Linked DNA regions of Homo sapiens. Changing the gene in region 4 together with the main gene of any one other region gives a genetic interaction. Each region holds a gene or a part of one and is shown on either strand. Other genes may lie near its edges. The genes, in order: PARP1, ETV1, ALKBH4 and ATR.

Region 1 (7,200 bases), on a different chromosome or scaffold from region 4:
AAGGACTATTATTCTCCTTTCAACATTTGGTAGTATGTTTACTATGATGCCACCTGATCCACGATGTGGATTTTCTAGAATAAGGTGTCCCTTCCTTTTCCTAGAAGCAGACAGTGTAAGGGCATTATGTGGTTACCTGGCCATAGTCAATCTCCAGGGGGTAGAACTTTTTGGGATACTTCGTGAAATTTTTGGAGTGCCAAGCGTTCCCGGTTTTTTCTTCATATAATTTCATGAAGTGCTCAATGGCATCCTCCTTGGACGGCATCTGTTCCAGTTTGTTGCTACCGATCACCGTACCCACACGGCCCCAGGACCTGAATATCCAATACCTGCAGTGGGAAGGAGGGTGTCAGATACACATGTGTGGGTCAGCTGTCCCATTTCAGGAGCTCCCCTTTCCTGCCATTACATTCACGTGGGGAAGAATTTTACACACCCCAAAAGGATGGTGATTAACACAGAACAAACACAACTGCTATAACAATAAAGGGTCTTTATTTTACTTTTCATTAAACTTTCAAATCATATTGACTACAAAAAATGCCAAAGAATAGTTTAAACTTGGTTCTGGCAGCCAAGCCTGAGGACTGAATCCTGGAGTCTGGAGACCTTTGCATAAAAATGATTCTAGTCCTCTCCCCAAAGAAATACAAAGTACTATCTGGAAGTCATGTGTTCAAGGAGTCAACCCTTACAGCTGTACCCTAAAAATAATGAAACTTTCAACTCAGATCCAAGGCCAAGACATGATGAAATGAGGGGGGCAGTGGCAATGGCTCCTCAGGTCCGGTGACCTAGAGATGCAGGCTGTCATGTTCAAATTCCATCTCAATTGAGGGTACACATCACACACACCCAGCTGCTGTGCTGCTCAGCTTTGGATGAGCTAATTTTTGATTAACTCAAAGCAGAGGTAATGCAACACTTAATTGTCATTTCATAATAAATATATATATATCATAAACCCACATACAAGATTTGTGTACATTTTAAAGATAGAACTACAGATTTCAAAGAAAATTTGGGACTCCCTGGCCATTCTCTGGGCTACTGAACAGGGGTATAAAAATTCATTCTCTGCTTGGTTTTTCCTGTGAAAATTTTTGAGAAGCACTACCTTGATCTACGTTGAAAATTTTTTCTGACCCTAACAGCCTACACCACCCTTTCACTTAACACCAGGAAATCTAAGCCACCAGAAAAATGTCCACATCCACAATCAACGTTAGAATTTAGTAAGAGTTCCTTCCACATGCCTTTACACTGACACATAAATGCTATTTTGTGGTGGCTGTACTGAGGGGCAATGAACTCACTAGATAAGGACCACTCTGCCTAGAAACATAAGGACAAAAGCCAGCCCAACCTCTCACCACCTCCCAGCTGCTGTACCCCACCATCCACACTCCAACCTTGCCTGTCTCACCATGTTAAAAAAAAAAAAAGGCAAATCCAACCTCTTTAGTTACTAGGGAGTTTGAACATTAAAGAGTAAGTTCAACGCTTGCCAACCTTTATTTGCTTCAAAGTTTTAAAACATATGTAAAATCAGAAAATCTTGATTCAAGTAGCTGAAAGAAAAGCCAGCTGGGGCTGGGTGCAGAGGCTCATGCCTGTAATCCCAGCACTTTGAGAGGCTGAGGCGGGAGGATCACTTGAGTCCAGGAGTTTGAGACCAGTCTGGGCAACACAGCGAGGCCCGTCTCCATAAAAAATAAGGCATGGTGGTGCGCACCTATAGTCCCAGTTACTCAGGAGGCTGAGGTGGGAGGATTGCTTGAGCCTGGGAGGTCAAGGCTCCGCTGAGCTGTGATTACGCCACTGCACTCCAGCCTGGGTAACAGAGCGAGACTATTTCAAAAAACAAAACAAATAGTTGCAAAACAACAACAAAAAACAAAACACCAAACAAAAAGAAAAGCCAGCAGAAGAATATGTGAAACCATACCTTGGGACAACTGTACAAGGACAGCAACGCTACTGGTTAGTAAGTGGCTTCTTTCTCCCCTTTAAGCAAAGGCCTTATAATTTGTTTTTGATCTCTGTGATTAGATTTCATTCCCCAGGCACTGGGCCTAACGGGTTTCACAAGGCTGATGGCACAGCACTAACCAATGCAGGACGGGCCCATGTCTCTGCACAACCAGGCTACACCTGCAGAACTCACCTGTTTTCCTTGTCGTCCTCCAGAAGCTGCAGCTTGTAGTAGGAGTTGGTTCCTTTAACGATGTCCACCAGGCCAAGGGTGGCACTGAAGACCTTCCCACCTTTCTCCAGGACATGCGCAGAGTGTTCCAGTCCTGTCCCAGAGGAAAAGCACCTACAGTTTTCTCTCCCCTTGAGGTGCTAGCACTCTCACGGAGAAGGGATCTGCAGGCCTGAGGTTCACGCCTCTTGGATACACTACCACCACCCTCGGGAGGCTCCCCACAAATGTGTGTTCTCAGGACTGGGGGAGCTGGTGAAGGAGGCCTGAGTGAGGACAAAGGCACGACCACACTGCCCCAGGTATGCTGCGGGCATTTGGATGTGTGCTCCTAGTCAGCTGGGGGTTGGGGGGCGGCACAGCCCACTTTGCTGGCAGTCCTGTTTGCTTACCAGAATCAGGATCCACAGCTGCTCCTCCTTTAAGAGTTAATTTCATTCTCTTTTCAGATTTGTTGATACCTTGGAGGAGAACAGAAAAATGTAAACATGAAGTTAAATGTAACTAAAAAGTAAGGGGAAGGTAGAAGGCAAATGAGTTGTTCTCATTCCCATCATCTGTCAACTCGGCATCTATATACACACTACTCCCGCCACCCCAAAGCGCCTGCCATTCTGTGTCCTGCTCTGCAGCACTCAACAGGCCATGTCAGGGACACAAAGGGAGAGGTTCCGTGGACAACAACCTGGCCACCAATGTCCCTGGCTTTTGGCCCTGGAGGGGGCAGCTTGGGGCCCTCACCTTCCTCCTTGACCTGGCCCTTGCTTTTTTTGGAGAGCGCAGCCCCTGACTTCCCTCTTGGGGCCACAACTTCAACAGGCTCTGCCTTCACCTCTGCCCCCCAAGGGGACAAGATGTGCGCTAAGAACAACTCCTGAAGGCTCTTGGTGGAGGCGGAGACGTCCTGGAGGAAGTCCTCAGACACAACTCGGATGTTGGCTTCCTTTACTTCCTCCATCTTCTTATTCATCTTTTCCACCTCCTCTGTTCAAATTGAAAGGAAAAAAAACCAAAATACAAGTTTAAAACAAAACTGAAACTTCAAATTACTACAGTTATATTTAGTGTGTACTTCCAAACCCTCAGCATTCACAGCTCTCCTTTGCTTCCAAGTCTAATGCTCCCAAGAGTGTTTTTATCAGCAACATTCCCCCTTTTCTAAGGTATGATGAGCCAGGGCAGCCTTCTCCAAACCATTCTACAGCACGATGTTAACAAACACTCCAAAGAAAAAACACCCTGATGTCAAATATGTATGGGAAATCCTGTATTCTATTTCTCTGGTTCCTGAAGACCTACAGTGGTAATCAGCATAATAAACCCACACAGAAACCTGTTTAGCTTTGTTTTACCCTACCTTTTCCAAACATACTTGAACCTTGAACTTCTGTTTTGGCAGATATCTATGCACATCTTACAGAGCAGTGCGAAGTGATGAGAATACAGGTTGAGCAGCTTCCCTTATCCGAGATGCTTGAGACCAGAAACCTTTCAGACCTTAAAATACTTGCTTCATATTTACTGACTGAGCATCTAATCCAAAACTCTGAAATCTGAAATGCTCCAATGAACATTTCCTTTGAGCATCATGTTGTCACTCAAAAAGTGTTGAATTTTGAGGCAATTTGTTTGGGCTTCGGGACTAGGGAGACTCAACCTATAGTAGCTTACCGTCTTTAGTTGAGAACACGCAATGCATGTGAATCTACAGTACAAAGCAGCAACACTGAGAGCAAATACTGGTTTCCCTTCATAAAGAACCACAGCGATGATGATGTTAAGATCCAGTTTTTCAGCGCTGTGTTCGACTCTTCCTCACTTACTCGTCATCACAATCATAAGATACAGAAGCATTGTCCCTGTTGCACAAATTCAGATTCAACTCACTTTTGGTGCTGATGCACAGGGAAGCCTTGTTGGCCGTCCCCGTCAACTTCCCCCCGAGTTTCTCAATCATGGCCTTCACTTCATCCTTGTTCCGGGACAGCTTCCCGAGAGTCAGGATCTTCATGTTGGATAATGGCTTATCTGGGATGAAAGGAGAGAATCATTCAGCAAGGCCAGCTCTGGTGCTGCTCCCCAGTAAGGGGAGGTGGAGGAGCAGGTGAGCCAAGCAGCGAGCTCCTGGGAAAAGCCTATGAAAATACACTCGCGAGAAAACAGGACGGGACAGCAAGCTGCCACCTGAGTACCTACAGATGTCCCTCAGCACAGAAAGGACTGGGCAGGGAGCAAGCCACAAAATGCCACTCCATGGCCAGGCCAGCCTCGCGGCGTGAGCCAGGCAGCTGCGGGTTACCCCAGGTCCGCGCCAAGGTCAGGCTAGGAAGGCTGCATCTGCGGACGAGGGACCAGGAGGCTGGAGTCGGATGGGAAGAGGGGTAAGGTCACATGAACCCCCAATTCCTTCTGTTATTCTCCCAAACAAACTGCAATTCTTATGAATTAACCCCATTTTAAAATGAGACATGTCCATGATAGTCCCTCAAAGCAGTGGCCAGCACAATCACACGGAGCTGAGCTAACTGATTCTAGGAGAAAAGCAGCAGCCTGGTGTGCACTGACCCAGGCCAGAAAGGCCTGGACAGGGGTGTGCCTTCTGTTCACAGCAAACAACACAGTGCAGGTGACACCCGTCCAGAACTGGAGTAGCTGCAAGGAAAAGTCCTTCCTGCCTTCCCTGTGAGGGCAAACAACTAGGAAACACTGACAGTTTAACTGAAACTGCTGAGGTCTCCAGAGAACAAAATTATTGACTCATGCTGAACTGCAAGTCAGGGGAAAGCAGAGGAGGGAACCCTCCATGGAGGGGTCAGAATGCCAGCCCCCAACTGGCCCTTCATGTGGGCACCTGGACCCAGGCTGCCAGCAGCACAGTGGACTCGGGATGACCACCAGCACACACTGCAGTGACCACTGGTCCCCTCTCAGGATATGAAAAGGAAGTCAATAACAGGTTTATGTTCAAGGAAGGAACCCTCATCCTCCACCCACCAAACTGTGACCTTCACCAATAGACTATGCCACATGTCTCTGAGTAAACAAGCAGCGGGTCACTTCTCCTGCCAAAAAAATACGTTGCTCTCACTGTCTTGGTTGGCTTGGGGCATTTCTCACTAGTGCTGATTAGTAACTCCCTCTGCATACAACAGAGACTTGAGCATCACACCAGGGCCCGGATGACTGGTGGGCGCAGGGCAGCCTGGAGAGTGAGGCCTGGGATGCTCCTCTGCAGTGCAGTCAGGCAGGAGACCCTGCGCCCAACTCCAGGTAAGGCTGTCGACCTAGCCTTTCTTAGGAGCCCCTCTCCTAGCCTCCCAGAGTAAGAGCTGCTTGTTCTTCTACAATGTTTATTTTATTTTTAGAGATAGGGTATCACTCCATCGCCCAAGCTGGTGTGCATTAGCGTGATCATAGCTCAGTGCAGCCTTGACCTCCCAGGCTCAAGGGATCCTCCGCCTCAGCCTCCTGAGTATCTAGGGCTAAAGGCACATACTCGGATTAATTTTAAACATTTTTGTAGAGATGGGGTCTCACTACATTGCCCAGGTTGGTCTCAAACTCCTGGCCTCAGCAATTCTTTTGCCTCAGCTTCCTAAAGTGCTGGGATTACAGGTGTGAGTCACTGCTCCCAGCCGATGCTATGTTCTTAACACTCTCCCACCTTGCTGTGGTCAGGGGTGTAACAAGCCAAGAGAAGAGGCCTATCCCCTGCAGGGCAAGGCTTCCCCATGGTGGGGTCAGCAAAGAGAGACCCTTGACGGATACTTTCTTCACCAGCTCCACACCACCAGCAAGTAGTGGGCAAACAATTCCTGCAAAGCAGCTCTAAGACCGGGGTCCCAAATGCTGTACCTGCTGAAGCAGAGGAGTTCACAGCAGCAGGAGCCGAGGCTGTGGAGGGCGGAGGCGTGGCCGCCACGGAGGCGCTGGTTTCTGGGGGGAATATACGGTCCTGTTTTTTAACCTTCAATTTCTTGAGGTAAGAGATTTCTCGGAATTCCTAAAAAATATTAAGTTTTAGTTAAGAAGCCAGCTCTCCCTTGAGGTAACCACCCCATAGACCAAAGAGGATTTGGCTTGTCCAAATCAAATAATCTCTTTTTTTCTTCTTACAATAAAGAGTAACAAAAAATAGAAAAATGTGAGGCTTTAAGGATGAAAGACAGTATTATTGCTGCTACAGTACTTATTTCCGGTACTTTTACATTTATAATAGGGCTAATATTGTGGCTGCTTTAAGAGAAAAATCTTTCCCTAAAAAAAACAAAAACAGAAACCAGTGGCCAATTCGGTCAGGGAACCACCACTGGAACTGCTGTATGACTACAACCTCCCTGGCCTCATTCCTGAGTTGCTCCCTTCGAGAGTTAATAGGCCTCTGTGGGATCACATGCCTACTCCAGAACTCCAAGACCCCGAATACTATATACACACTGGGAGATTATTACCCAAAAGGAAATCACAGTATTTGCTTTCCTTTTTAGAAGAAGGAAAAATGAATGCAGGGAGCCCTATGGTATTCACTATAAATTCTTCCATCAGCACAATTCACTCTTCACTCTGACTGATTTACAAGGGGCCTTGCTCTAAATGGTCACTCAATAAGTATCAAATACATGAAGCTCAGGGAAAGATACTGTGCTCCCAGGTCTTCATCCAATCAAGAAACTGCCCTTTCCAGCTATGCCTGTGTTCAGGATGTCAGTTAGATACAAGAGGTCACAGATTGCTTCCGACACACACAGACCACCTAATATGTGCTACCAACCATAGTCTGGTTAAAAAGACAGTTTCTGCTCTTCAGAAAGTATCTCATTCGTGACTGAGCATCAGCTATAGGAAGGTGAACTTTAACAAAGGAGCTAAGCTATGCCAGAGGTGTGCCAAGGTGATGTGAGACAGGGAATGCTAGCATGCACTTGGAGGCAGTGATCTGCTAAGCCCACTGGGAGCTGAAAACACAGGGGACTGCCTAAGCACAGCCATCT
Region 2 (7,200 bases), on a different chromosome or scaffold from region 4:
GTACACAGATTCAAATCCTGCACATTTTTCCCATTATATCATTGTTTTGGTTTTCCCTCAGAATTAACAGCTAAACAGATATAACTATTGAGATGCAAATATATCAACCACAACAATTACTGGGCTTTTAAAAAGCCAACATTTATAAGAATCTAATAAAAATATAATATCCCTTTACAGGAAAAGTTAAAAATAGCTGGTGAGTAACAAAAGTATACTTGTAACTGAATATGATGGTATGAATGTTCTAAAGGTCTTTTGTTTGTTTTTGTAGCATCGTAAGCAGATTTGCAACTTCCTAATATATGTCACTGCAAGAGCAGCACAGACTCACTGATGGGTGTGTGATGTGTGCTGGAATATGTGTGAGGAAAAAAGGGCCAAATTTTAGGAGTAGAATAATCTAGAAGTTATACCTCGCAAATATACAGAAAATAGCTGCACGATAACAATCTGTAAAGAGTAAGAATAAGAATTCCTATTTCTGTTCTAACTCCTTAACATACTGAATAAATACTTCACACTTATTCCTGAACATATTACAGAATTTTAACAAAAAACATATGACTCACATTTTCACAGAAGCTAATCTTAAGAAACTGAATAGACCAAACGAAGCAGCATGCTACTTAAATAGACAAAGGCTTAAGTATACCTCTAATTTCAAGTTAGAGTAAACGGAAAGCAGTTAACTAAAAACACAAGTTGGATCTAGGCAAGGAAAATATGACAAAGTATTGCCACACTTGTATCATACATTTCCTTTTTTCTTCAATTCAGGGGAATACTGTGAAGGAGCAAACTGCAGCTGCCTGAAAACTTGCAGCAAGCCATACCAACTCCAAAGTTGAAAATTAACAATAGAGGTCAGCCTAAAAAAGCAATGTTTTTTCCACTACTATCTATTATAAACTGTGCTGGATATAATCACCTTTGGGGAATGAAAATGTTTCCCCACACTATGTAATTAAAGACGAAGGGGAAGAGGAGGAAAGGAGAAGGGGAGAAAGTATATACCAAAAGACCAATAAAATGCTTTCAAGGAGATTAAGCATGTGGATTTTATTGGTAATAGCTGGAGCGGCTCTATCAGTTCATTGCACGTTAATAGACCAGTTGCCATCAAGTCTCAGGATGTCGGCTTTAAAAGGGCAGTATCTGCACTCTCAGCTATTTGTTTTACCTAGATTATTATCCAAAGTTGTTTTACTGTTTTCTGTCTTTTTGCTACGTATCAATGCATATTATCAGAAAGAAATTCATAAAAATATTAATCATGACCTATATGTCACAAACTCACCAATTCTCCTTTTTAATTTTAATACTTTTCTTAACTAATATTGCCTTAGAGATGGGTAATTTTAAATATAGCTTGCCTTTATGTTATGCTTATTTTTAACTTTCAAATGAAATAATAATCATTACTTAAGAAAAAGTAAGCGATGAAAAAGTTTCCAAGGTTGGCTGCAGGGAAGCGAAAACCCTCCTATTCTTACAAACTATGTGCCTGTTGGGTTTTTTTTTAAAGCTAAGGAAAAAGTGGAAGAATTACAAATAAAACAAACGTCAAGTATAAAAGGGGTTAATATTTAATTAAAACCAGTTCTATCCACTGTAACAATGACCTGGAGCCAAACAAGGCGGAAGATGTATGAGTCATTCTTTCTGCCCGTGAATGAGACAGCTGATCTCCTCAGCAATTCCTCAAGACAAGCAGGCAGAACTGGAGTTCTGCCTCCATTCACAAAAACACAGTCCAGCATATGAGCCATGTGGCCCAACCACAATCTTTTCATGTCACACCCTTCCAGGGAGCTAAAGCAAGTAAACTTGGACTTGCAATATAAACACACCAATTTTATTGCTCTGTCTCAGAGCTCAGATCCATTAAAGGAACACATTTAAATAAATGACGTTTACAAAGTTACATACATACATACATACATACATACATACATATATATATATACACACACACAAATACATACATGCATCCTGCTTTACAGAGTAACTTGTTACAGAAACTTGCATGTATAAAACTAAGGAAGAAAAAAGGAAAAGACAGAAAGATGCAAAGAAGGTTTCAAGAAAGGGAAAAGAAAAACCATTACGGAAATGCCTTATTTTTCTTTTCTATTATCCAACTATTTTTATCATAAGAATACTGTAGATTGTTTGCTGAACTTTGTAGCATTTCTCTTTGAATCAAAGAGTTAGAAACAAATTTCTCATGAGAAATTTAAATTTTATTTCAAATAAGAAGTAAAAAAAGAAAAATCCACCTTCCTACAGTGGTATGCTGTTTAATCCTAAATTGAAGCTACAGGCCATGGAACAAAATAATCATGAGTCCACTAAGCTTGGTTTTATACCACATCCACTTTTAACATTAAAATGATTGTACAAATGTAAAAGCATTAATTATGCAGAAGTATAAACATATTTAAACATACAAAAAGGAGGCAACTTTCCAATGACAAAACACCTTTAATACTTGATCAAGGCATTATTTCCATATTTCTATATTCTTACTGTAACAGTAAAGTTTTAGTCGTTGTGTCAAATCAGCTTCAATTCCTAACTAAAACTGACCTGCAGTAACTTGAAAACTTAAGGGAAGCTCAGAGCCAACTAGCCGTTGTTTCTAGCCAAATATTTTCTCTAATGCTACAGAGGTCTGACTCTATTATTATTTTTTATTATAACATTATACACAAATCAAAGGGAATAAAGTTATACTACAAAATGTAACAAACTGCACATTTCCTATAACTGAAATAGAAAAGCTTAGCAATATTTTATTTATTAGGATCCTCTGGAAAAACTACACTATACTACACCAAATCCTATTTTTCTATTTTTAAAAAAAATTTCTATTTTGTAAATAAAACATGGATGAAAAAACATTTATGCAATTCCAATGAATGTTTAGAAATAAAATATACTTTATCTGCTGTCTTTAAGTCAAACTCAAATGGGAAGTCTTTCTCTCATATTTTAGATTATTTTCTAGCACATCAAAAAGAGGGGTGATAGCCCATCCTCTCCCCGCCCACACACACATGAAATTATTGTTGTTCAATTATAAGAGATTATATGGAGTTCTGTAATTCAATGCTTAATTCTAAATTCATGTTTTATGTAAACCACATAAAATAATGTCGTTTTTAAAGCCTTTAATCCTTATTGCACCAAGTGGGGGAAAATAATTCATGAGCACATAACCAATTTTATGTTCCATTAAAAAAAAGTAGGATTTCTGAAAAATAAAAATGAGTGTATTATGACTACTGTATATTGTGGATGACATTACACATAGTAAGTAACAATAGCACATATTACTTATGATTTTGAATATAAATTTACCATCAGCCATTAAAGCGAATTGAGGGGAAAGTAATGACATCTCTGCTTTTAAGTTGACCTGACTGTTGTTTGAAGGTCACATAAAACCAAAAGGAAAAAACCCTTATTCGTATGATGTAATAAGCTTTGCTGTAGAAAGGTTGTTCTTGCAGATAAAACTCCTACTCGAAGTGTGGAGGCAGCACTAAACTTGACTCAATACAAAACCACTGGAAAACATTTTACCCTGAAGACAGAGAATATTGTTGATGAAAGTGAACCTGAAAGAACATCTAGACCGGAAACAAAATAACAGTCAAGAGAGCAGCTACACATTTACATCAGATATATACTGAAAATTATTATTTCCCTTTAAGTTGTGTTAGTAGGTGAGCTTTAAGAAGCAAATTTGGAAGAATACAATCCTGTCTTAATTTTTTACATCTTTCTATTTTTGTTCTGGATACACAAGAGGTTCCATTTTAACTATGACTTTCAGGTTGTTAAGAATAAGACATCACCATGATGTTGATAGAATTGATATTTAAACTCATTATTTCATGGGATCAAATAATTGCAATTGCCTTTCTGTCAGTAGCAGTCTAATTTAAAAGACAAAGAATCAATAAAGAATTGCACATAGTAAAATTATAACATAAAGTGACTATGGCAACATTTTAAAATTGGCATATTCCCTGACTTTTTTTTTTTTTAACTACTGTGGTTACTGAAAACATTAACTTTGCAGTTTTCTTCAGAATAAGATAATTGTTTTAAACTGTGTTTAGATGTTAAAAAAAAAACCTTTAAATTGCAGTGTTATTTCTTGGGAAATGATATTAATGTAAAGTTATATTCTCCACCAACATATTTAAATCTCTGTATGGGAATTAACTTTCTTGGTAGAATGCAAGTATATTTTTACAGAGGACTTTACTGAACTGAAAATACTGGTCCCATCCCAACCCTCAAACAGTCCTGCCTTATCTATTCCAACTTCCCCTTAGAAATAAAAGAAATTTTATAATCCATAATAATTACCCATGACTAATCCATATGTTGCATTTGGGGTAAAATTTATGAATAGTCTTACAGAAAAAAAAAAACTAAACATGCTAAGATATCATTTCACAAATATTTGAGGACTTTTATAATTTTTCAAAAACACAATTATCATATGACATATGACAACTAACTTGACTCTTATGTCTAATAAGGTTTTTAGACCTGTTTAACTTCCCAGTGGAATTCTAACTCATGCGAGAAACTTGATTAACTGCCAATGATCTTTTTTAAAAGGGTCAAGATGTCTTAAAATTCCATGGTCACTTTCTTGGCTATGGAGCATTATGAAAAGAAATATGTAAACGGTTCATGGTCTGCCAATTTGGCAATGTTTTAATTTCTGGATGTCCAGAAAGACATAAATGGACACATCTCACTACAAATAAACTAGGGTAATTTGGGGATCTCTTCTTAGCTAATACCGTTCAAGAGGTGGGATAAGTCAAGTTAAAATATCAGTGCAAAATAATATATTTAATTTCTCAAAACAAAAAAAAAGTGGAGTCTAGAAACAAGAAGTTAAAAAGATCTCTTTTCTCACTATTAGGTTTTAAACATCACGTTAACAACTTTTTACTTACATCGTGATTAGATAAATTAACGTAAACTGTTTTGAAAACGCTTAAATTATTCTAAAATGAAATCTTATCCATAGTTTGTAAATAGTAGTCCACCTGGGAATTCATATAAAACACTCATGATTAATTCCTGAACTTAATTGAAATTATAATTCTTTTCTAAGTAAAGGTCCATGTTCTTCCAAATACACTGATCATTTTCTAGGATTATTTTTTGTAGTGCTAAATCTTCAGGTTTGATTTACAGGTATGTTAATAATCCCGGAGAAAGACTATTCTCTGCAGAGTTTTAAAAGATAAATTTGGATAAATTATTGCAATCACTTATCTGAGCTACAAGACACAAAACAAGTAAGTCAAAAGTTAAAAAAAAAGTACTGAAACTGATTATAAAATGGTAAGAGTCTGTCACAGATTCCACATTTTAAAATTCCAGGAACAGAGTTGCTATGCACATTCAAAATCTGCCAGCAAGTGCACTGACTTGGAATCAATGAGATTTAAACATCTAAGAACCAACAAACCTTCCAGAACAATTAAAATAGATATTTTAAGTTATTTTGGAGAAGCAAATAAATTCTCTCATAAAGGTAATGTTCTCACAACCTTTGACTTTGCAAAACTAATAGGCATAAGTTAATACAAGAATCTCCATGCAAATTTTCCTTGAAAAACTTGTATCTGAATATGACTTATGTTGCAATAAAAAGTAATGTATTGCAGTAAGTTTCATTTACACAGACTAGCAAAATGATCCTTAAATATAGCCAAAACTTTCAGTAAGTCTTACCTTCATTAACATATAAATACAATCATCCTTTCAAAGGACTATTAGGAAAGCTATTTAACTTTAAAGATTGATAAAGATTGAAAAAGCTCTTTGGAGAACTAGACTATCAGCAAAACAAAGAAACTTATTTTACATGCTAACAGCAACTTGATCAACTGCATTCAAGACCACCGATAAAACACGTCAGTCTGCCTCAAAGTAGCTACAGTAACACCTGGGTTCCATTTAAAGAGACCCACTCTCTCCTTTTTAACCATCTTAAAATCTGTTCCAAAATTTGCATGTTTCCCATATAATGTGAACACACAAATAATACTGTTATACACTCAATGCTTAAATATCTATAATTTTTCTCTTTGTATTTCCCACAAACCACACCATAAAATTAATGTTTCACATTTGTATGCCAAATCCAAAAGAAAAATTTCAAATTATGAATGCCAACAGAAGTCCCTCAACATTAGGCATTTTTGAAGTTGTATAAAGCTTTATGAAGCAATCTCATTTTCCTATAAAGTTGCATACGATAAAAGATATAACAGATTGCACCACAAAATTTTAACAAAAAATAATTCAAAATGAAAGTAATGCCTTTAAATGTATCCTTGCTCTATTAAATAAATCCTAATAAAACTGACAAAATAGCAAAGGTCAATTTCAGCAAACATAACATGAATAGTAACACATGGAAAACATTTTTAAAATCCTCATATCTCCCATTTATTTTAAACCCATAGATTTCCTAAGCATTAGATACACACCTAACGTTCTGTGTTGTGAACAAGGTGGAAAGAAGACACTTGCACTTAAATCTTGAAGCATCCCGTCCTGATGAACCCAGAGAAACTAATTTCTGCCATCAGAAAAGTCCTCCACCAGAACACCAAATAATGATATGCGCTGCTCTAAAGGAAACAGCAAGCCAGCCGGGTTCTGGCTCTAGGAGGTCTCTGGAGGTACAATAATATAAACCTGATCAATTGCAATTAAAATCTGAACAGAGGCTTAGAACTTGAAGTCTTGGTGCATTAGTTCTTGCCAAAAGCAGATGTGATTGTGAGCTGGAAGCAATTTCTCCTGGTAATTTGTGATGACACTGGGTAGTACAGCCCCAGAGTCCCCAAAGACAAACTCATCAGAGGCTCTAATGTATGCATGACACATGAGGTGGCTCTTTTAGAGCTCAATTAATTGGGCTGAATATTAAGACAGCAAGTTCAGGACTTCTTTTCTTTCTCCTTCTAGAGTTGCTTTCCCCCCTTTTAAAGCAAATTTTGCCTTACCTTCTGCAAGCCATGTTTCCTGTAATTGACTTAGATCTTGAAAGAGTTCTAAAAAACAAGTCAAAGACATAAACATAAGATTTGCAAATCTTTAATCTTCATTAAATGGAAATATTTGTCATGAAATTGGTATTAAATA
Region 3 (7,868 bases), on a different chromosome or scaffold from region 4:
TGGTTGGGCACCCCGATGTCCCAGAGGATGATCCGCTTGTCATAGGAGGCCGCTGAAGAGGGGGTGGGGTAGGGGAGAAGTGGCCCTGAGATGACCCTGCTCCCTCCTGCTGGCTGCATCCCAGGCTGAGCCCACGGTCCCAAGGCCAGCCCCTCCGAGGCGGGGAGGGCGGGCCGAGGCTAGGAGACAGGAACACTCCTGGGCCCCCAATCCCTGTTTCCTCCATCTAACCTGATGCGGTGGCTCCAGCGGCCACTTCCTGTGGCTCATCCATCCCCCTTGACAGGGGCGCCACACCCGGGGGCAGGGGCATCCCCCCAGGTCACTGACAGGGGACAGAGTGGCCCAGGCTGTTGGAAAACTCCGAGGCCACAGAGCAGGCTGTGGATAAAGCCAGGGTTGAAGCGACATGGCTTCCTGCCAAAGCTAGAGTCGGAGCGGTGCAGACTGGGGCCCGGCAGGCGCCCGAGCTCACAGCCATCCCAGGGAGGGGAGCGTGGAGGCTACTGGGGCAGCAGGACAGGGGTGCTTGGGGGTCCCAGGGGTGAAGGGGAGGGGCTTACTGAAGAGATGGGTCTCGTGGGCGGGGCTGAAGCACAGGGTGGCGATGGCCTTCTTGTGGGCTCGGATGACCCCGCAGCAGAAGCCGGCACGCACGTGCAGCAGCCGGACCAGGCCCCGTAGGCCTGCAGCCGCCAGCACACTCCAGCGCTTCTTGTGGCCAGCCTGTGTGACCACCATCAGAGCGGTCCAGGCCACAGAAAAGAACTCCTGGGCGGGGGTTAGAGTAAACAGTCACTGGGGCAGAGCTATTGGTGTGAACACGCGGGTAGCCCGGGCCTGGGGGAGGGAGCCCCAGCATGAAAGAAAAAGGCCATGGGGCAGGGGGCCGAGCCTGCATCCATCCCCATGCTGCTGTTCAGGAGTCAGTCGGGCACCCTTGCCCAGCAGGGACAGGGCCTTGCACTCACCTCGCCGGGTGCCTTGTACTTGTGGAGCACGATGCCCGTCTGGCAATCAATTACGCACACAGCCTCCCCGCCGCACGTGGCCACGGTCTGGGATGTGGCCCCTGAGTGCCCGGTTTTGAGAGGTCGGATGAGCAGAGACATTTCCCATCTAGGTCCTCCCTGCAGCCTCCTCCTCCCAGCCTTGATGGCGCCTTTTAAGCTCTGTCTCCTGATCCCCCACCCATCCAGGCGGCCCTATTTCCAGCGGCCCTTGCCCCGCCTGCCCGCCACCATGTACCCTCCTCCCAGGCCGGCTCGAAGGCACAGGCCCACAGCTGGGTCTCGAGGTCCTGGGGGCTGTTGTTCTTGCTGTGGCACTGCAGGAAGTGCAGGGGCTCCAGCTTCACAGCAGGCTGTGGGGGGAGAGAAGGGTCACAGCTGCCCAGCCCCGACTCATCTGCCACCTGCTCCTTGCCACCTCAGCTCACCTGGCTGCCATCGGAGCCTGCCACAGGGCTGCCCTCCACCTGGGCCGACGGGGAGGCACACGCCCGCTTGCTGGGAGAGAGGCTGAGTGGGACGTCGTCTGGCCGTTTCAAGGCCGCCAGTCTGGCCTGTGGAGGGGGCCTTGTGACCATGGGCCTGTCTGCCTGGGGCTTCCTTCCTCCCCATCACAGGCTGGACCCCACCTCACTGCGGATGCAGGAGGCCCAGGCTGGCCCGGGGTCACCTAGGGAGTGAGCCAGGACCTGGGGTGCTTCCTGGGCACATGCCCAGGACGCCTTGGTCTCCTGAAGCTTCTCCAGGGAGGAGGGACTGGGCTGGCCTCAGAGCCCTGGGAGCTGCACTCACCCTGGGCTTGTGGGCAGCTCCAGCTTCTGGGGGCTTCTCTGGGCTGTTAGCCTTTTGCACCTGGGTCCTACTGGCGGCCACCAGCTCCTCAGAGATCATCCGCACCTGGGTGGGGCCAGGCCATCAGGAAGCTGGGCAGAGTCCCAGGTGCCCCCAGCCCTGCCGATGCATAGTCAGGGGGAGCTTATGCTTCCAGAGTTGGGGAAGGGCCTCTCCAGCCAACAGGGCTGCCCACCCTGACTCACCCCACTCCCACAGCCCCTCAGCCCTTCATGGCCAGGGACCTCCAGGCAGCTAGAGATACGAGAGCCAGTGACTCCCTGCACATTGGGACAGGGACATACCCGCCACTGGGTGAACTCGCTGAGGGACTCGGGCCCGTAGCGGACATCCCTGACAGCCGACTTCACAAAGTCCGCCTGGGCCTTCTCAGCCTCCTCTTCAGGACCCAGTGTGGCCATGAACTTCTCCCAGTGAGCTGTGACCTGGTGCAAGAGGGACCAGATCCAGGCCCGGCCCACCCCAGCTCCTCCGGACCCAGCCCTCCATCTCAGGGAATCTCAATCCCGCCACCTGCTGGAAGCCTCCTGGAATCACAGCCTCATAAAACACACACACACACACACACACACACACACACACACACACACACCCCACACACACCCCAGCAACAACCCAGGTGCCTACACACACACACACACACACCCCAGCAACAACCCAGGTGCCTACACACACACACACACACACACACACCAGCAACAACCCAGGTGCCTATAGTCCCAGCCACTGGGAGGCTGAGGAAGAAGCATCGCTTGAGGCCAGGAGTTGGAGCCTGGGGAACAGAGCAAGATCCCATCTCTACAAAAAATTTTAAAATGATCCAGACGTGGTGGCATGCGCCTAAAGCCCCAGCTATTCAGAAGGCTAAGGCGGGAAGATCGCTTGAGCCCAGGAGTTGGAGGCTGCAGTGAGATACGATCACACCACTGCACTTCAACATGGGCAGCAGAGCGAGACCCTGTCTCTAAAAAAAAAAAAAAAAAAAAAAAAAAAAAAAAAAAAAGGTAAAAAAGAAACACCCCAGAAAAAGCTACTTAGAAGAGTCAGGCCGGGTGTGGTGACTCATACCTGTAATCCCGACACTTTGGGAGGCCAAGGCGGGCAGATCACCTAAGGCCAGGAGTTTGAGGCCAGCCTGGCCAACATGGTGAAACCCTGTCTCTACTAAAAATACAAAAAAAATTAGCTGGGCATGGTGGCAGGTGCTTGTAATCCTAGTTACTCGGGAGGCTGAGGCAGGAAAATCACTTGAACCTGGGAGGCAGAGGTTGCAATGAGCCAAGATCGCATCACTGCACTCCAGCCTGGGCGACGGAGTGAGACTCCATCTCAAAAAATAAATAAATAAATAAAGTAGCACATCAGGCTAGGGGCTGTTGGGGCAAAGAGCCTCTATCAGTCACCCTCCTCAACATCCTCCTGATGTCCAATTCTATCATTCTCCCAATGCCCCCACAGCTCCTAAGCACACAATAATCCTCTCATCCCCTTACCCTGCTGGTCAGCTCCCGATTCAGGTTCTCCACCTGAGAGTAAGTTGAGGACGCATCCTTGCCATTGACCTTACGGAGCGTGGGCAGGAGAAAGGAGACTTTCAGGTTGTCATTGACCTGGGGAAGAGAGGGTGAAGAGCAGTGGCTCAGGAGATGCTGAGCCTGAGCCCAACAGAGTCCTGGCCCCAGGTATGAAGCTGGTGGGAGGCTCCCACTTACCGTCAGGAAGGGGTTGCCCTCCAGGCTGAGTTCCTCGAGCTTGGGGAACTGGCACAAGGCAGTAACATCCCCCAGCTGGTTGTTGGCGCAGCGGAGGACACGCAGGTGGGACAGGCCCAGGTTGTCCGGCAGCGTCTCCAGGTGGTTGTTAGACAGGTCAAGCTCCTGCAGCTGCGTCAGGCGGCACAGGAGTTTGGGGTCCAGGTGCTCGGAAAGCAGCTCCAATCCTGACAGGCTGGAGTTGGGGGCAGAAGGCTTAGGGGGCGGGCAGGCTTTGCACCCTACACCAATCTGCCCCGGGTACCTCAGAAGGCTTTTTCACCTGACATTTCTCGTACAAGTGTAGCCGCCCCGCCCATCCCCCCGTTACTTTATTTTTAGAGACGGGGTGTCACTCAGTCGCCTAGGCGCGATCATAGCTCACAGCTGCCTCCAACTCCTGGGCTGAGGGATCCTCCCGCCTCAGCCTCTCGAGTAGCTGGGACTAGAAGCGCGCGCCACTACTCCCGACTCCACACCACTTAACAAAAAAAAAAAAAAAAAAAAAAAAAAAAAAAAAAAAGCTGCAACTACTTTAGGACTCGGGGGCATCCTAGCCCCCTCTAGGATGCTCTTCCTGATCCTTCGGGGGCTCGTCTGTGCTTCCCAGGCCCTCTAACGATAGCGGCAGGCTGTGCCCCTAACTGTCCGGGCTCCCTTCAGGGGATGAGGCCCCTCGGGGCTCCCGGCGAGCGGGTGGGGCCACGATCTCCCAACAAGAAGACATTTGGACCACTCTGCCGAACCCAGAGGGCGATAACGGGGACAAGCGGGCCGTTGGGGAGGGTCCCCGCTCTTCTCCCCGACCGCCCGGCCCCGAGGACACAGCCTCACCCGCTGCCCGGCTCTTACTCCAGACTCCGGATCTTCCCCAGCCGGTCGCTCTTGGGGCGCCCGCGCTGCATTAGCAGCCGCGCCGAGAGGGGGCCCATGGCGAGGAGGCGCAGCCCGCGCTGACCCAGTCGGCCACCCCGGCGTGTGGCGTCGCCCTGCGTCTCCTGGAGCCCGGCACTGGCGTCCGCGGTAACTGAGCCCAGGAGGCGGCGCCGCGCGAGCCCGTGGGCGTTAACGACCGGAAGGAAGCGGAACCCAGGCCTCGTGCCCCCGCCCGGCGCGGACTACAACTCCCAGCGGCCCCCACGGCCGCGCCTGCGCACTGGCCACGCGGACGGCGCGATGGCGGCGGCTGCCGCCGAGACCCCCGAAGTCCTTCGGGAATGCGGTTGCAAGGGCATCCGGACCTGTCTGATCTGCGAGCGGCAGCGCGGCAGTGACCCGCCCTGGGAGCTGCCCCCAGCGGTAAGGGGTGGGAGAGGGGCCGCGCCCACAAACGTCGCTCTGCATCTGGGGAAACTGAGGTCCAGCTTGGCCATGATAGGGGCCGGGATCGAAGCCTGTGAGGGACCCTTACGGTAGGGGTGATGCAGGGTGAGGAGATGAGGGCTTTAAGGAGCGGGCTTGGGAGTGGGGAAGGAGCTGGAACGTGGGTGGGTTCGATTACAGGTCACCTCGGGGACTCTGGGGGGATCTGCCTGTAAACCTCGACGTAGCCTCTCGGGTCTGGCGCTGGGAGCTTCACGGGCCTGCAGGGAGATGACACGGAAAGGGTCGATCGAGGGTGCTGAATACCAGTCCAACGGTGCCTGAAGGCCGTGGACTGCAATGGGCAAGGAGACAGTGAATTCCAGTTAACTAACGAAAAGGAACTCAAGGATCGCTGCAACCCAGGAGCTGGAGGCTGCAGTGAGCTATGATCGAGCCACCTCACTTCAGCCTGGGCGACAGAGCGAGACTCTGTCTCACAAAAAGAAAATAAATAAAAAAAGAAAAAGAACTCAGCGCCTTTGGGCTGGCATGGAAGGACTGTGGTTGGTTGCAAGGGCATTCCAACCCAGAAAACTGCGTGGGGTAGGAAGGTGGATTGGTGATGCCTCAGGTGAGAGAGATGAGGCTGGAGAGGTTGTGGGGGGGGGGAGGTCTGATCACAGATGCTCCCCGGTGCATCAGCTGAGCAGGCTGGACTTGTCCCAAAGGCCCTGGAGAGCTCTTGAAGGGTTTTAAAGGAGTGATGAAGTCAAATGTGAATTTTAGAAAGATCCTGGGAAGGGAACGGGCAGATATGAAGGTGTGGAGGCTGGTAAGCCAGTGAAGACTGCCCCAACGTCCATGGTAAAAGTGCCCAAGGTCCTATGGAAACAGCATGGCATGCCTCATGAATTAAACATAGAATTACCCATGATCCGCAATCCTGCTTCTGGGTATATATCCAAAGGAACTAAAAGCAGGGTCTGGAAGAGATATTTGCACACCCATGTTCATATTCACGACATTATTCATGACAGCCCAAAGATGGAAGCAAACCAAGCATCTATCAAGATACCTGGGCCGGGTTCAGTGGCTCACGCCTGTAATCCCAGCACTTTGGGAGGCTGAGGTGGGCAGATCACCTGAGGTCAGGAGTTTGAGACCTGCCTGGCTAACATGGCGAAACCCTGCCTCTACTAAAATTACAAAAACTTGCCGGGCTTGGTGAGGCACATCTGTAATCCCAGCTACTCGGGAGGCTGAGGCAGGAGAATCGCTTGAACCCAGGAGGCAGAGGTTGCAGTGAGCCAAGATCGCACCACTGCACTCCAGCTCAGGTGACAGAGCAAGACTCCTTCTCAAAAAAAAAAAAAAAAAAAAAAAAAGAGATGACTTGATCCACAAAATGTGGTGCATACACATAGTAGAATACTATTCAGCCTTAAAAAGGAAGGACAGGCCGGGCACAGTGGCTCACACCTGTAATTCCAGCACTTTGGGAGACCGAGGCAGGCAGATTGCCAGAGCCCAGGAGTTTGAGACCAGCATGGGCAACATGGTGAAATCCCACCTCTACAAAAAAATTAACCATACATGGTGACACGTACCTGTAGTCCCAGCTACCCAGGAGGCTGAGGTGGGAGGGTTGCTTGAGCCTGGGAGGTCAAGGCTGCAGTGAGCTGTGATCACGCCACTGCACTCCAGCTTGGGCAACATAGTGAGACCCTGTCTCAAAAAAAAAAAAAAAAAAAAGGACATTTTGACATATGTTACAGCATGGACGAACCTTGGGGACACGATGCTAAGTTAAGGAAGCAGTCACAGAAGACAAATACTGCATGATTCCTGTTGTGTGAGCTACGTAGGGTAGTCACAGGGACAGAAAGTAGAAGGGTTGTTGCCAAGGGCTCAGGAAGGGGAGATGGGGACCTGTTGTTTAATAGGGAAAGAGTTTCAGTTTTGCAAGATGAAAAAGTTCTGAATGGTGGTGACGGCTGTACAACAATATGAATGAACTTAAGAGTTTTAATTTGTGGAAGGGGCCAGGTGCGGTGGCTCATGCCTATAATCCCAGCCCTTTGGGAGGCTGAGGCAGGAGGCTCGCCTGAGTCTAGGAGTTTGAGACCAGCTTGGACAACATAGCAAGACCCTGTCTCTACAAAAAATTTAAAAATTAGCTAGGTGTGGTGGTGTGTGCTTGTAGTCCCAGTTACTTGGGAGGCTGAGGTGGGAGGATTGCCTGAGCCCAGGAGGTCAAGGCTGCAGTGAGCTGTGAGCGCCACTACACTCCAGCCTGAGTGACAGAGCGAGACCCTGCCTCAAACAAAAAAAAAGAAAAGAAAAAAATTGCGGAAAGTCTGACCCGTTCCAGTGGCCATGTGGAGGTGACATCTTCCCAACCCGATGGCTATGGAACAAGGAGAGTGAGGTATCCAGGATCTCAGGGCACTGGGGCAGTTCCTCACTGGCTTTCCAGCCTCCACCCTTCATATCTGCCCCTCCCCCCTCCAGATCTTTCTAAAATTCACATTTGACCTCGTCACTCCTTTAAAACCCTTCAAGAGCGCTCCATGGCCTTTCGGACAAGTCCAGCCTGCTCAGCCGACACACGGGGGACTCCCAGTTTTAATGTTTCCCGTGGGAGGGCCCCAGGAGCAGGAGGAGATAGTGCCAATCTCAGGAGGGGTCTGAGCTGGAGTCGGTGGCTGGAAGTAAAGCATTGGAAGGGGCTGAGGTCCCTGGAGGGAAGAACAGAGAAAGACAGCGGCCCACAGTGAGTGGCAGCCCAGGGTGTGAGGAGCCTGGAGATGGAAGAGGAAGAGGAGACAGGCCACAGAGCCCAGGGCTGAGTTCTGGTGGCCTCCGAAGTCCTCACTGGGTGACTCCGGCCAGAACCTCCACACCTCCTGCCCATGATAGTTATGGTACCTTCCTCTTGGGGCTGTCCTGG
Region 4 (7,200 bases):
AAGTTGTATCTCATTGTGGTTTTAATTTGCACTTCCCTAATGACCAGTGATGGTGAGCATCTTTTCATGTCTTTGTTGGCCATTTGTAGATCATCTTTGGACAAATGTCTATTGAAATCCTTTGCCCACTTTTAAATTGGGTTTTTTTATTCTTTTTTTTTTTCCTTTGAGACAGGGTTTCGCTCTGTCACCCAGTCTGGAGTGCAGTGGCGTGATCTTGGCTCACTGCAACATCTGCCTCCTGGGTTCAAACGATTCTCGTGCCTCAGCTTCCTAAGTAGCTGGGACAGCATGTGTGCATGAGCCACTATGTCTGGCTGATTCTTGCATTTTTAGTAGAGATTGGGTTTTACCACGTTGGCCAGGCTGGTCTTGAACTCCTGACCTCAAGTGATCCTCCCACCTTGGCCTCCCAAAGTGCTGGGATTATAGGCATGAGCCACCATGCCTGGCCTATTCTTGAGTTGCAAGAGTTTGTTTCTTTGTTTGAGACAGAGTCGCCCAGGCTGGAGTGCAGTAACGTGATCTCCACTCACTGCAACCTCCGCTTCGTGGGTTCAAGTGATTTCCCTGCCTCAGCCTCCCCAGCAGAGAAGGGGTTTTGCCATGTTGCCCAGACTGGTCTTGAACTCGTAAGCTCAAGCCATCCACCTTCCTCAGCCTCCCAAAGTGCTGGGATTACAGGCATGAGCCACCCCGCCCAGCCAAGTTGCAAGAGTTCTTTACACATTTTGGATACAAGACCTTTTAAGATATGATTTTCAAATATTTTCTTCCATCTGTGGGTTGTCTCTTCACTTTCTTTGATGATGGCCTTTGAAACATAAAAGTTTTAAATTTTGATGCAGTCTAATTTGTTTTTTTCTTCTGGTTATTTTTGGTGTTTCTGTTGTCATATCTAAGAAACTATTCCCTAATCCAAAGTCATGAAGATTTACACCTATGTGTTCTTCTAAGCATTTTTGACTTTTAGCTCTGCTATTTAAATCTTTTATCTGTCTTCAGTTATTTTGTAGATATGGTGTAAGGTAGGGGTCCATATTCATTTTTTTGCATGTGCATATCCATTAGTCACAGCACCATTTTTTGAAAAGAATATTTTGCCCCTCGTTTAATTATCTTGGCTTTTTTGTTGAAATGGTCAATTGATTTTCAGCAATATTCTGTTGATCTATATGCCTAACCTTATGCTAACAACACAGTGTTTTGATTGTTGTACCTTTGTAGTAAATTTTGAAATCATAAAGTGTGAGTGTTCCAACTTTGCTTTTTTTCCCCCAAGATCATTTAGCTATTATGGGTCCCTTGTATTTCCATATTAATTTTAAAATCAGCTTGGATTTTGATAGGAAGGACATTGAATTTGTAAATCAATTAGGGAGTATTGCTGTCTTAACAATTTGGGAGTATTGCTGTCTTAACCATGTTAAGTCTTCTGATCGATGAACATAGAATGTTTTTCCATTTATTTGAATTTTATTTTTTTCATCAATGTTTTGTGGTTTTTAGGGTCAAGTTTTATATTTAACTTTTAAAAATTGTATTCCTAAGTATTTTATTCCTTTTGATTTTATTCTAAATGGAATTTTTCTTAATTTCATTTTTGGATTGTTCATTGCTAGTGCATAGATATATAATTGATATTTATATATTGATATTGTATCTTACAATCTGCTGAATTCATGTATTAGTTCTAATAATTATTTTTGTGCCTTCCTTAAGATTTTCTCTCCACAATAACATGTCACCTGCAGATACAGTTTTTCTTCTTCCTTTTTAATATCAATGCCTTTTATTTCTTTTTCTTGCCTACTTGCCCTAACTAAATCAGTGTCGAATAGACATGCTAAAAGTGGACATCCTTGTCTTGTTCCTGATCTTAGGGGTAGAGCAGTCAGTCTTTGACTTTTAAGTATGATGTTAGCTGTGGGAAACAGATTGTTTGAAAGGACTTTTAAAGCTTATTTATTCACCTTCATTATTTAAAAGCTGTCTATCGGGCCGGGCGCGGTGGCTCACGCCTGTAATCCCAGCACTTTGGGAGGCCGAGGCGGGCGGATCACGAGGTCAGGAGATCAAGACCATCCTGGCTAACACGGTGAAACCCTGTCTCTACTAAAAATACAAAAAATTAGCCGGGCGAGGTGGCGGGCGCCTGTAGTCCCAGCTACTCGGGAGGCTGAGGCAGGAGAATGGCGTGAACCCCAGGGGGCGGAGCCTGCAGTGAGCCGAGATTGCGCCACTGCACTCCAGCCTGGGCGACAGCGAGACTCCGTCTCAAAAAAAAAAAAAAAAAAAAAAAGCTGTCTATCAGACATTATGGTAGAATACTGGTTAGTTGGACATATGCAAAAGCAAATTCTCTGAAATAGGAAGTATATCATCATGTGGAACAGTTACCAAGAGCCCCTGTGTTAGTCTGGGTCAGTCAAGAAATAATTTCTGGAGGAAGTAGTTGAGACCTTAAAAGTTAATAAAGTTGACCATGCAAGGGAGAAGAGAGTGTTCTGAGTGATAAAAATATCAAGGCAAGTGAAGTCATGGCCTGCCTGAGAAATACAGTATGTATTCCAGAGGGTATACTTCCAGGAGGTGGTGCTAAGAGATGACGCAGGACAGGTAAGCAGGGGCTAGATTATGAAGGTCTCACATGGGGCCTGTTACTACATTATAACTTTGCCTGCAGAGCAACCAGAAGTCATTGAGGATTTTAAGAAGGAATAAAAAGGGGGCAAGGGGTGGAAAGAGATAATCTGATTTGTACTGTAGAAAAAATAGGGTCCTAGTTTGGGCCAACAGCCAGAAAACTAGTTAGAGGTTTATTGCAGTAACCCAGGAAAGGATGATGGTGTACTGGATAGTGTCACGGCCGTAGAGACGGAGATAACTGAAGAGATTCCAAAGAGATTTAGGAGTTGTAATTGCATGTTAGAGGAAGACGGGGTGAGGATGATTCCTAGATTTTTGTCTAGGGCAAATGGGTGGATGATGATTTGGGGAATACAGGAGAAATAGTTGGGAAAAGGTAATTAATTTTATTTTGGAGATACTGAGTTTGAGGTGTTTGGAACATATCCAACTGGGTATTTCCCATAGGTAATTGGATTTGATGTTTAGGGTGCAGAAAAAAGGTCTGGGCTAGGTCTATATGGTAGCTATAGATGTTATATCGTTATTGAAGACATGGTAAGGGATAAAATTCCTTCATTCAAAATATAGTCATTTACCAGTTCACAGTATACACTTAGAGATGGCACATAGAACCCATCTTACTCTATTCTCCAAAACACCTCTGACTCCCCTCTATCTTGCCTTTTTTCCTGCCTTCCCTTCTCTTACCCTCCCCTCACACCAAAACAGAAATTTCACATAACTTAATGAAGACGTAGTAATGTGTATTATAAGAGTATTACCATTAGCTTCTCATCCTTCACTTAAATATTGATGTCAGCAAGATTTCTTCTTGCAAAGATAACATCATACCATAATATTTGTTTCAATTTTAGTGTCTTAAAGACTTTTCTACATGATCCTCTTGTGGAATGGAGTAAACCAGTGAAAGGGCATTCCAAAGCGCCACTGAATGAAACTGGAGAAGTTGTCAATGAAAAGGTTAGTAGAAGGTATAGCTTGATATGGGCTGTAGTCCTCATCTCTACAAATGAACTTGATATGCAGCTATAGTTCTCATCTCTATGCATGAGAACTGCTTGGAAATACTGTTAGTGACTATTGATTACTCTGAAATCTAGTTCTCTAGTATCACAATGCCATAAGTTTTCTTTATTGTCAGTAATGTTAACAGTATTCGCATTTGTATAATAAAAGTTCATGGCACACTTGTTTAACCATAGACAATTCACAGTTATGAGATACAGTAGGAAAAACTATAGTACAAATTGCCTGAACTTACAGAACAACAGGTCTGAGCTTTAATATCATGATACCAGTATGTCACAAGCTATGTTAACAAATGCAGCAATTCACTTCTTACTTAGTTGAAGCTGCAAAGTTTGCAGATAGTTTTGTTGTTGTTGTTGTGGTGGTGGTGGTGGTTGTTGTTTTTGAGACAGAGTCTCGCTCTGTCATCCAGGCTGGAGTACAGTGGCACGATCTTGGCTCACGGCAACCTCTGCCTCCTGGGTTCAAGCAGTTCTCCTGCCTTAGCCTCCCAAGTAGCTGGGATTATAAGCGTGCACCACCACAGCTGGCTAATTATTATATTTTTAGTAGAGATGGGTTTCACCATGTTGGCCAGGCTGGTCTTGAACCCCTGGCTTCAAGTGATCCACCCACCTCAGCATCCCAAAATGCAGGGATTATAGGCATAAGCCACTGTGCCTAGCTCAGATAGTTGTTTTTAATAAGTTAGAATAGATTGAGGATTCGTTTTTTTTGGTGGGGGGCACTCTTACATCTTTAATAAGTCTTGTACAGGCTTACTAAATACAATGAATTATACCAACTATATGCTAATAAAGATTAAAAATTTACATTCCAGTTAACTACCTAAAGAGTTTAAGTCCACTTTCATCCTACTGATATAGCTCGAGGAAGGCTAGACCTGTACGCCCCCATCCTTCATGTCATCCTTAACCCTTTGTCTTGAGAAAGAAGGTTTAGCTGCTTCTTTAGTTCTTCTAAAAGAACTAAAAGAAAAATTTCTTTTTCTTGCTCTATTATCTTCATCTGTAGGGTGAGATTAATATTTCCAGAATTGTGGAAAAATTCACTCTGTAGCAGTTGAAGAGCAGATGGTCTCTGGGACATGTTCCTTTTCGTTAAGTGATAGATATACTTGGCTTGTACTGGATACCTTTTACTGAGGGATTCCAATATCTGACCAGTTCTTGAACCTGTTAAAACTTCTGCTCGCTCCATTTCTGTTCTAAACAGCTGAAAGAGCTCTAGCAGGATCACACTCAAGCTATATACATATCTAACTGGACAAAGCCAGCCCTGGTCTCTACAAATAGTTTTTGTTTTTTTTTAATTAGCTGGGCTCAGTGGCACACTCCTGTAGTCCCAGCTACTTGGGAGGCTGAGGTGGGAGGATCACTTGACCCCAGGAGTTGGAGGCTGCTGTGAGCTATGATGACACCACTGCACTCCAGCCTGGGCAACAGAGTGAGACCCTTGGCATCATACTCAGATCCTTCCAACTGCTGGGATGAAGCATACAGACAAGTGCCCACTCTGGATATAGGTGTTGGTGTTCTCTTTCTGTTTCTATGGGTCCAGTCTGTGTTCTTTTGTAAGATGTCTGGGCAAGCCAGACCAAAGTCTCCTATTTTTACTTGCTGATCAGGGCCATGAAGAAAAATATTTCTAGGCTTCAGATCTCTGTTTACAATACCCATGTTATGTATGTAAAACACACCTTCCACTAAATCTTGAAAATTTTTTGTTGCAACACTGGCCATAAGGACAGGCAAACTTGCCCACACACTCTTGGCCCTGTTTGTTTCTCTCAGCTAGCCAGTCCCACAGCTGGAGCTTGCACACCTGCATCTGGATGTGCAGCATCAGGTGGTACTGCACCTCGATCCCCAACAAGTTGAAGTTTTCTTTGGAAGATTCCTCAGTGGATGTGAAATTCTCCTCTAGGAGGGAATTACACCTGAGCAGCAGGGGCTGTTTCACAATTGACCAGGTAGACAAACCAGCCAGGCCATTTTCCTGGAGCTCCAGGGATGATTCATATTCACTGGTGTCTCTTAAGACGGAATTGATGGTGTAGTTCACAGCTTGTTGTTCTGATTTTGAGTGTCAGATTCTGCAAAGGGTTTTTCTTTTCTGAGGTGAGCTCCGCGAAGATAATGGGTGAGCTGCTATTTTCACCATTTTTAACACCGTATTGGTATCTGTCTGCTTGGTCGGAGAACACTTCCAGAAATGGCAACTGAACGGAAGCTCTGTCTGCTTGTGGTTGGACCACTTGAACATGTTCTGTCCACGCAGTGTGATAACGAATGATATTAGGGTGCTGAAGACCTGCCAGCACCTTCATTCCCCGTAGTTCTTTCATGTAATGTGTTTTTGTTGCACCCTTAATCAGGATTTTTTAAATTGCATAATACTGACCATCTAATTTATTCCTGACCTTGTATACTCTTCCATATCCACCTTTTCCTAAGATGGCAAGTTCTTCAAATTCATTTAAGTAACGTGAAGTTTGTGCTTCAAAGGGTACTTCCCTTGATCTGATTTTCTGGATATGAGAAATAGCCTCACAAGGATCCTGATGAACTCTCTCTTTAGTGGACCTCATTAAGTGAGTAATAGCTCTGTGGTGATGTAGTCTCAATGAGCTAAACTTGTCACAAGTGAAAGAAGACAGCAGCCCCATTTTGATAAAGGTCTGGCAAAGTAACTTAAACACTGTCTTGAATGAACTGGGTTTGGTTCACGCACATGGCTCAAGTGCTTCACCAAAGAAATAAGCGGCAGCTGGTTTGCAACTGCAAAAGGGAAAGTTGGCTGTTGTAGGGGTTATTTTAATACCTGGAGTTCTGCTGGAACATAAGTCATATTTGGAGTCCAGGCTCTTGGCGGAAAAGTCGATGGCAGATGGCACAGCAACAGTCTCCACCCCGTGGCCCTCCTCTTTGTGCTCGTGGGCTGCAGCGCAGCCCACCAGCCCACCCAGCACCACCTCTGAGAATTATTCTTCTAATAACGTTATTCTTCCTTTTGCATTCAGATATGCTTAAGAAATTGTACAGTTCCAAGTAGCTCACTTAGAACACCCATTTGCATGTACTAACATAATGTAAATATTAGGCAGTACAGCATTGTTATTTGAATATTCATTGAAATGTTTAAGTCCTAAACACTTCCAAAGCAGATTTAAAAAATTATTTTTCTAGAATTGTAATGTGTAAATAATTCCCTGGTATTTCACGTAGTCCAGAAACATGTCCAAGCAGTTGATGTTGAATCAATCTTGCGAGCCTCCAAATCAGTATCACAAGCTAACTGTATTTGTTTAATTTCTTCTTTTCCTGTATTTGCTCTTACAAAAGGGGTATTGGTCAGTAAAATGGTATTAACATTTATTAAATGTCAAAATATAAAGAAAGGTAGTAATTCCAAATTATTAACATCTGTTTTTGGTTTTATGTTTCTTCTTTTTAGGCCAAGACCCATGTTCTTGACATTGAGCAGCGACTACAAGGTGTAATCAAGACTCGAAATAGA

Evidence for each region.
Region 1: changes in ATR (region 4) and PARP1 are lethal when combined (synthetic lethality), as found in Homo sapiens cells (one study listed by BioGRID).
Region 2: of ATR (region 4) and ETV1, extra expression of one rescues a mutant of the other (dosage rescue), as found in Homo sapiens cells (one study listed by BioGRID).
Region 3: changes in ATR (region 4) and ALKBH4 together harm fitness more than expected from each alone (negative genetic interaction), as found in Homo sapiens cells (one study listed by BioGRID).

What each region holds. Positions count from the first base shown.
Region 1 is NC_000001.11:226,376,972-226,384,171, forward strand, and holds part of PARP1 (poly [ADP-ribose] polymerase 1), read right to left. Parts: intron 6,213-7,200; coding exon 6,065-6,212; intron 4,238-6,064; coding exon 4,097-4,237; intron 3,194-4,096; coding exon 2,951-3,193; intron 2,671-2,950; coding exon 2,602-2,670; intron 2,304-2,601; coding exon 2,171-2,303; intron 333-2,170; coding exon 137-332; intron 1-136. UniProt on the Homo sapiens protein: Poly-ADP-ribosyltransferase that mediates poly-ADP-ribosylation of proteins and plays a key role in DNA repair.
Region 2 is NC_000007.14:13,979,577-13,986,776, forward strand, and holds part of ETV1 (ETS translocation variant 1), read right to left. Parts: intron 7,110-7,200; coding exon 7,062-7,109; intron 6,837-7,061; exon of another isoform or gene 6,601-6,836; coding exon of another isoform or gene 6,540-6,600; intron 1-6,539. UniProt on the Homo sapiens protein: Transcriptional activator that binds to DNA sequences containing the consensus pentanucleotide 5'-CGGA[AT]-3'. Required for olfactory dopaminergic neuron differentiation; may directly activate expression of tyrosine hydroxylase (TH).
Region 3 is NC_000007.14:102,461,758-102,469,625, reverse strand, and holds the start of ALKBH4 (alpha-ketoglutarate-dependent dioxygenase alkB homolog 4), read left to right. Parts: upstream 1-4,762; 5' UTR 4,763-4,789; coding exon 4,790-4,912; intron 4,913-7,868. Other genes in the region: LRWD1 (leucine-rich repeat and WD repeat-containing protein 1), read right to left, coding at 1-52, 564-771, 972-1,072, 1,249-1,363, 1,439-1,564, 1,803-1,907, 2,147-2,287, 3,356-3,472 and 2 more. UniProt on the Homo sapiens protein: Dioxygenase that mediates demethylation of actin monomethylated at 'Lys-84' (K84me1), thereby acting as a regulator of actomyosin-processes.
Region 4 is NC_000003.12:142,449,540-142,456,739, reverse strand, and holds part of ATR (serine/threonine-protein kinase ATR), read left to right. Parts: intron 1-3,506; coding exon 3,507-3,612; coding exon of another isoform or gene 3,613-3,684; exon of another isoform or gene 3,685-6,137; coding exon of another isoform or gene 6,138-6,167; exon of another isoform or gene 6,168-6,181; intron 6,182-7,137; coding exon 7,138-7,200. UniProt on the Homo sapiens protein: Serine/threonine protein kinase which activates checkpoint signaling upon genotoxic stresses such as ionizing radiation (IR), ultraviolet light (UV), or DNA replication stalling, thereby acting as a DNA damage sensor.